Linked DNA regions of Homo sapiens: all the other regions are linked to region 1. The links come from fine-mapping of genetic effects on gene expression. A gene starts in region 1. Each other region holds a variant in brackets. All regions are shown on one strand. Distances are between the middles of the regions. Region 1 holds the start of SPP1 (secreted phosphoprotein 1). Region 2 has its middle 17 kb from the start of MEPE. Region 3 overlaps MEPE (matrix extracellular phosphoglycoprotein).

What was found.
Region 2: its variant is fine-mapped to the expression of SPP1 in whole blood (TOPMed, PIP above 0.99).
Region 3: its variant is fine-mapped to the expression of SPP1 in whole blood (INTERVAL, PIP above 0.99).

What each region holds. Positions count from the first base shown.
Region 1 is chr4:87,974,196-87,976,964 of GRCh38, forward strand. It overlaps SPP1 (secreted phosphoprotein 1), which reads left to right and starts at 1,519. Exons shown (of 7, transcript NM_001040058.2): 1 at 1,519-1,605; 2 at 2,687-2,754. The coding sequence starts at 2,701. RefSeq lists promoters at 1-1,515, 515-1,602, 1,392-1,605, cis regulatory regions at 525-534, 750-758, 825-833, 1,271-1,286, 1,461-1,470 and 1 more and enhancers at 777-797, 1,160-1,659, 1,422-1,492.
Region 2 is chr4:87,848,410-87,851,178 of GRCh38, forward strand. No RefSeq gene overlaps it. Among named protein-coding and RNA genes, the nearest start is that of MEPE, 17 kb to the left of the region's middle. The variant C/T (reference allele first, on the strand shown) is at 1,437.
Region 3 is chr4:87,839,038-87,841,806 of GRCh38, forward strand. The region is part of intron 3 of MEPE (matrix extracellular phosphoglycoprotein); the gene reads left to right. Among named protein-coding and RNA genes, the nearest start is that of MEPE, 7.5 kb to the left of the region's middle. The variant T/A (reference allele first, on the strand shown) is at 1,539.

The DNA of each region.
Region 1 (2,769 bases):
CCCTACCAAATGTTCATGAAACCTATGAATTAGCTATACACTATCACTGCAAGACATTATTTAATCTATATTTATATTAAAAGTAATATTTGGCAAAAGGAAGCTGACACTTTAGGACTAATAAAAACCACAATTACTTTTGCAGCAACCTAATAATAAATAGGACCATTTATTTTTCATCTCAATTACACACAAGTCTTAACAATAAAGGTGTAAGGTAAATAAATAGTGCAATCTGCATTTCACAACTGAGAAAGCAAATGAAGATAAGTAATCTCAAGGCAATATTAAATATTTTAAAAGGACCCAGAGCTCTGCTATCCCTGAATTCTGCTCTAATATTCGGACTTTCCCTGTAATTTTCTTTCATTCAGACACCTTTTAAATACCTAGTAAAGTGTTTTTTAATACAGAAATTTTTAAAAATGTTTTTCTTTTTAAGTGGCCTACTTTACATACCTTGGGAGAAAAACTAGAAAAAAAGATGATTCCAAAATCGAATCTGTTCCTTTAGAAATGTGCAAAATTTCCTTATTGATGCATACAATTTAAAGATCTTACGTCTACTCTCATTTTAATAACCTGTTCTTTTAAAGGACATTACAATTCGTGACTGCCTGCCCCTCTTAAAAATTTCATAATAGTTAACACACATATAGTCCTTAAGATACGCAGAGCATTTGCATCTAATATGTGCTAAGCATTGCTAGTTTAACATACTAATTCATTTAAACCCCTCAAAAACCCCATGACCTAGGTAATAGTATTGCATTTCATGGATGAGGGAACAAGGATAGGTAGGCTGGGCGATTTGCCCAAGGTTGCACAGGTCAGCAGTGACACAGCGGAATTCAGAACCACGGTCTGGCTCCTGAAGCAGCCCTCTCAAGCAGTCATCCTGCTCTCAGTCAGAAACTGCTTTACTTCTGCAACATCTAGAATAAATTACCATTCTTCTATTTCATATAGAATTTTATATTTTAATGTCACTAGTGCCATTTGTCTAAGTAACAAGCTACTGCATACTCGAAATCACAAAGCTAAGCTTGAGTAGTAAAGGACAGAGGCAAGTTTTCTGAACTCCTTGCAGGCTTGAACAATAGCCTTCTGGCTCTTCAATAAGTACAATCATACAGGCAAGAGTGGTTGCAGATATTACCTTTATGTTACTTAAACCGAAAGAAACAAAAATCCATTCTATTTAATTTTACATTAATGTTTTTCCCTACTTTCTCCCTTTTTCATGGGATCCCTAAGTGCTCTTCCTGGATGCTGAATGCCCATCCCGTAAATGAAAAAGCTAGTTAATGATATTGTACATAAGTAATGTTTTAACTGTAGATTGTGTGTGTGCGTTTTTGTTTTTTTTTGTTTTAACCACAAAACCAGAGGGGGAAGTGTGGGAGCAGGTGGGCTGGGCAGTGGCAGAAAACCTCATGACACAATCTCTCCGCCTCCCTGTGTTGGTGGAGGATGTCTGCAGCAGCATTTAAATTCTGGGAGGGCTTGGTTGTCAGCAGCAGCAGGAGGAGGCAGAGCACAGCATCGTCGGGACCAGACTCGTCTCAGGCCAGTTGCAGCCTTCTCAGCCAAACGCCGACCAAGGTACAGCTTCAGTTTGCTACTGGGTTGTGCATTCAGCTGAATTTCATGGGGAAGTCCAAATTCTAAGGAAAAATATTTTTAATTGTAATGCTGTTAAACAGACTTAAATTTTCTAGCCTTTTTAATAAGCAGATTAGATACATTGCAGGTCTCCTGGAACAAAGGTGTCTAGATATTTTGAATGCCAATCAAATTTAAAACTTAAAAATACTTCCACTGGGTCCTCAAAAGAACGGAAACCACCGATGCTAATCAGAAAATAGTAAAATTAAATTCCCCTTTGGAATAATTATACCTATATAATTTTCAGTGGGTGACTGTGCAGGAATTTAAAAGAAAAGGGATCTTTTATGCTAATTAAACCAATTACAATGCTATTTTTTAAATGATGTATCTCACTTTTAAGGGGAAGAAAACCCTTTCTGAATATGCCACTGCTAAATTTAGCTGTTAAAATATTCACCAAGATACCTGTATGACACTGTGTAGGCTTATTATTACAAATAGAAAAGCTGTTGGCTATTTTCAATGTTTTCCTTTGAATTTCAAATTTTTAGAACATCTTACTTAAATAACAAATTTCAGAGATAGTTTGATTTCACCTAAGTAGCACCTACTTGATAATTAAGCTAAAAGTCACATTTAAAGTACATGTTGGAAAAATGGATAAAGCAAATTTTTTTCATTTTTTTCTGTGAGTTTTTTCTTCTCTAAAAAATATTCCCATACTAGCTTATTAATATAATTAAGTTACTGTTGATCTGTTTGTAGGTTTAGAGAGCTAGATATATAAGGTAGTAATGGTATAATTTCTGGAACTCTAAATTTTAAAGTTGAATAAATACAGACTTGCAAAATTTCCCTTTCCCTTGCCTAATAGTGAAAGATGGATAATAGGTGGCAATATAAATATTAACTTGAAAGACTATAATACTAAAAAGAAAAGGCATCTCTAAGAAGTAGAAAAGATTCTATAGAAAATATATTTTATTTGTGATCATTTTGTAATGTGGTAGTATAAAAAGGTATCACTGTTGTAACCTATGAAGATGTCAGCTATTCCTTATGAAATATTTTGCAGGAAAACTCACTACCATGAGAATTGCAGTGATTTGCTTTTGCCTCCTAGGCATCACCTGTGCCATACCAGTGAGTACAGTTGCA
Region 2 (2,769 bases), 130 kb before region 1:
CTATCTTCTGGAAATAACAGGTCAGAATCAAGGGAAAGACTGAACATATCACCCAATGTTACCATCAGAATTCCAGAATAAACTATTCCTAGTAATTTGCTTTTTAAAAAATAAAAGACAATTTGGGGGAAAAAAAACTGGAGGCAATTAATGAAGTAAAAAAAAAACTCTATCAGAATTTAAATTGCAGATTAATAAATTGAAATCAAACTGCTACTTATATTTCAGGTTTATATCAGAGCTTTACATGCGAATGGTCTGATCACATAAAAACACTTGTCGTGGTAAAAGAAAAATATGAACTGATGGAGAAAAACGGATGCTTTCTTTGGGTAAATACAGATGGACCCTTCCAAAAGTCACCTGTCGTAGTCTGCTATCTAGTGGAGAAACTGCGTATTTCAATTCTCTGGTCCGATTTTGTTTCCTCTCTCTAAGCTTCAGTGTTCATGGATATTTCTTCAAAACACTGACAATGTTCATATTTTTTTCATCCAGTTAACAGAAACTAGAAGTGTGTTGGCATCCACAATGCATTGCTATTTGATGCAGACGTGGAGGAATTAGTCCAAACACAAAGGACCAGAGATCCACAAGGACAGTCAGTAGTCAAGAGTGAGGCCCATGCCTTATCCAAAACCATGTTTTAGCCATCAGGCTGCGCTAATCTCAGTTAAAAAAAAAATAGATATCTGTTTCTGAAATTGGGCAAAAAACTTCAGCCTCACGTAGCTGCCTTATAAGAGACGATGGAAATTGACCTAGCCTGCCACCTTGTGCTCAAAAAGAAAAGGTCACTGTACCAGTCTGCGAGCAGGCTCCGGTTCTGTTATTTACGTGCAGCCCTGGTACTCCCTCAAACCTCACCTTCCTGGACTTCTCTGCTTGTAAATATTTACCTTGATTTTACAATACTAATTAATCTGTTCTTGGCGCGTCTACCAGTCAGGGTAACATATCTGACCTTGTCTGAAATAACATTTAGCTCAGTTGAAAAGTATTTATTGAACGACCATCTTTTACAAAATTCTTTGGAGATCAAAAGAAGAGATGCTCTTGGTCTTTATCAAAACTATAAGTAAGTAGGGAGAAAGTCATACGAAAGATACAAGGCAGAATGTGTTAAATAATAGAAATATAAGTAAAGTGAGACAGGAGTTCTGAGAAGATGAACTCTAGCTGAAGGGAAGAGCCAGGAGATAGTAAAATCTATTTTACCCAACGTATTACACATGTAGAGAGGCTGCAGACAATAAGCCTCACTAGTACATAAGAGCTTCACAGTGGCGACCTTAAGTGATCCCATGTGTAGTTTAGAGCTTAAGATAGCTCTCCCCAACCAGTGGATGGGGAAGGAGTGGTAAGCAAGGTAGGGTTCAGGGGAGTTGGAAGGAAGAAGACCAGCCAGGAGGAAGTTGCTCAACAGACTTTCTCTG[C/T]GGTCTAGAATAAACATTGTGTTATCTCCTCACTCTGTCTTTAGGGCCTGCCTTTAACTAAGCAGGAGCTCAAGACAGCGTAAGTTTCAAAGACATTATGATGCTTTTACAGAAGTCCCTTTCAAAAACAACTTCTGTATGAGAAGGTAAACTCTGCTATTCAAGAGAATGATACTTACAGTCACAGGCATTAAAATATGGTATTAGACGGCCCAAAGGAAAAGGAGAAGAAATAGATGAGTCTGAATGCATGTCAGGAAGATAGGAATTGGGGGCTGAAAGAGAAAGGGGCAGATAAATGGTTAGAAAAAATTTAATGAGGAAGTCTGGAAAGAAAAGAGAACAAAACACCGATACAATCCAAATCCAGAAATCCAAATGAGAATAATGTCAAAAACAATGAGTGGACTCACGCAAAAGCTGCAAGAAAATCTACCTGAAGCTATGGTTTAGACTTTCGAGAATAAGAACAAGAGGATCTGTTTCATTAAACGAATAATACTTTATCAATTTGTAGGCATATGGTTTAGTGTAACACAGACACTCCCTGTTTAGAAGTGACTCTTGCTAGATTTGAATTTTAAGTAGATTTTTATAATTGTTAGGTTAACAGATTAATAATAGAAGTCAAACAATCTTAAATAATTTTTACTTAAAACAGCATCAGGAAGATAGAAGTATTAGGTTGGCTCAAAAGTAATTGCCATTACTTTTAATGGCAAAAACAGTCATCACTTTTGCACCAACATAATACTATGTGAAGAAAGAAAGTTGTCTATTTAGCAAAGAGGTAATTCTGAGCAGGCCAGCTGGGGCAGATCTTAGACACATTGCATTAATAAGTGAATGGAGTAATATTTGTGATATAAGGCCATGAACGGGGTCCAGGGATTTCCTTTTTTAACAGGTCCCTCAAATGATTTTAATGCAAGTCAAAGTTTGAAATCACTAATATGGATGTCTTTCCCAGTGACCTTCAAATCAGTCACCTGGGTCTCCCACAAATCTATAGCTAGTCCAGAACTTCCCCTGTATTAACCTACCATTGCAGGAATGTTTCAGTTTATGATGAAAAATAGCTTGTCTTTGTGGATTATCTTATATCAACAAATAATAAAAATATCATTTAAAGTGAACGTACAAGGCTGGGACTGGTGGCACAAGCCTGTAATCCCAGCACTTTAGGAGGCCAAGGTGGGGCAGATCACCTGAGGTCAGAAGTTCGAGACAAGCCTAGGCAACACAGTGAAACCCCATCCCTATGAAAAATACAAAAATTAGTCAGGCCTAGTGGCACAGGCCTATAATGCCAGCTACTTAGGAGGCTGAGGCA
Region 3 (2,769 bases), 140 kb before region 1:
GCTCTCAGAATGATAAATAAGGGAGTAAAGGGGAAGGTGGCTATCAGATCTGAATGGGGAATTCTATGTCCGTGGAGTCAGCTTTCCATATGCATCCAGTTAAATGAATCCTCCCCGCTTTGCATGCCACCAAATTGCAGCTTGCTTCTGCCTATCACAGAAAATTATGTTCTAAGAACTAACAATCTTCTGTACTTCATCTCAGCTGAAAATTACAAAGGCCAACGTTGCCAGCTTAAGAGCCTGAATGTTCATGCTGTGAGTTTTGCCAATTAGACATCAGACATGAATATTGTAAATCCTGTCTTTCTCCTGGTCCTCTCACCCCCTCCCACCTGAAAATATTTCCACATGCTCCATTTCCATAGACGTTTGGTAATAAAATCGATCCACCCTAGGACAGAAAGCAGTTGACAGGCCCTTAGGGAAAACAGATTTAGAGTTATGTAGAAAAGAGAAGGAACAAGTTGCTGTCTTCGGGAGCCGGCTGACACACACCCTCCTGTGGTTATAAGAAGTACTACCATTTGTCAGAGGTAGAATTCAACTTCACCCAACTTTTAAAGTTTCTTATATTATTACAAAGAGCCCAAAAACTTCTTTGTAAGAGATAAAACGTGCCTCAATATAATGTTGTGTTTTTGTAGATAACATACAAGGGTCACTATGAGAAACATGGGCATTATGTTTTTAAGTGTGTTTACATGTCACCTGAGAAGAAAAATCAAACTGATGTAAAGGTAAGCTGAATCTCTGAATGACCATTCTCAGCATGACTAAACTCTGGACTAGCCCTAGAGGAAAATGTAGGGGAGGCAAAGTTTACTTTTGCTTGCTCTGGGGTTTCTGTCTTATGGCTGGCACTTTTGTCCCTTCCCTCCCTCCCCAGGCTCCTCAAGCCTCTCTACTACAAAACTCTGGGTCCCAGAATCTTCCTGATCCCCATCCCATGCCTCGGCCCACATCTCGCTCTGCTTCAGGACCTGTGGCTGCAGGTGTGATACTCATGGACCTCAGGTGCCCATGGACTGCTGTGTTACTGCTTCTGAGTAACATTTGGTGTTTTATAAGAAAGTTTTCTTGACATATTCTACCATATGCTCTGATGGTGGGGATCTCAGCAGGGGACGGCTAAGAGGAAAAACCATTTTGGCCTAATGAGTGACACATTTTACTGTCTCTTAAATTCATTCTATGGATAACTCCATCTGTGTTGGGTTGCTCAGAAGTAAAAGAATGAGGCCCTTGTCACTACAATGACAATAATTCTTTTCACTCAGTCCCTTCTTGTAGATTCATCGGCCAAAGGGCTGGAAATAGCTTGAAATGCCATCAGCAAAAGGGCTATTTACTTTTTCCAAATCTGGTTTTATTTCCCATGGAAGTAATAGTTTCCCTTCAGAATGTTATTTTCTTCTGCCATCGATATCCTTTAGATGACATCTCTAAGACTACACCTAACTATAAATAAGTTAAAACATATCCATTTGCCAAATATATGTGGAGTTCTTAACTGGTGTGTAAGATACTATGTGAGA[T/A]AAAATGATGGAGAAAACAAATTCTTTCTCTCCAGGATCTTAGAGTTAGAAAAGAAACAAAAGGCACTTACAAAAATTATTGTAAAACAAGACAGAATGTGGGAGGTGCTATGTGAGTAGTACCGAGAAGAAAAAAAAGATCATGCTTTAAGGGCTTGGAGTAGAAAGAAATTAGTTCCTGGCCTCTGGTGTTCATAATGGAAATAATTGTGTGGGGCCATGGAGGATGAGTAGGATTTGAGCAAACAGAAGTGAATGGGTGAGGCCGTTCTCCATGAAAAAACTCATAGGAACCAAAGCATGGAGACAGAAAAGCAGAGCACAGAAAAGCAGCCAGCCAACTGGTACATAAACCATCGAACAGTCAGAAATCATTTAACACAAGCAAATGTAAGAAAAGTTTTTTTCTATTTTTTGATATTTTCTTCAATGCAAAGATAGCCATCATATACCACAGGATAAAAGTTGTTTCATGTTTTCATTTATAAAATTATTCTACTCAGTCTTCTAATAAAATGCACACAATTCATTAGTGTACATGTTACTTTTTTAAAAGCAGAGAAGCACCGAAAATAAAACATAACTTCCCACTTCAGACAAGGGAGAGAAAAAATTAGGAAGAGATTATTATAATCTACTGAGTTTAGATTTAGTGTTTAACTCAAAAGGTTATCTTAGTAATGAGTAAACAAACAACAATGAACTTGATTGCAAAGGAAAACATAAATGTCCAAGTAAAACTTTCCAGGACTCAATTACTCAAGTCAAATATTTAAAATACTTTTTATTTAGTGATATACTACAAAGTTTATTTCTATTTTTTTCTTATGGCAAAATCGTATTTCAGAATATACCCACCAATATTAAAAAATTAATGAACAATAATGCCATAACTTTTACAAATAAGTAATTTCAAATTATATTTTACAAATATTATACATTGGCACTTTTGCAGACCATATATTAGCTAGCTTCTTAAAAGTAGAGGGCACTTCTAAAAGCCATTTTTATTTTAGATTCAAATGTGAGCTGATTCAACATTTCCGCCTACTTCCAACAGTTAATAAGATACATATATAAAAGCAGACAGTCCTCCAAGCAGAACAGTACTTCTGTTTGGGAGTGAAAAAAAAGAGAGAGTCCAATCAAAATCTATTTCAGATAACATCCCATCGACGGCTACAAGCTTACAGAACACACAGCCCGAGGATGACACTTGGGCAATTCAAGA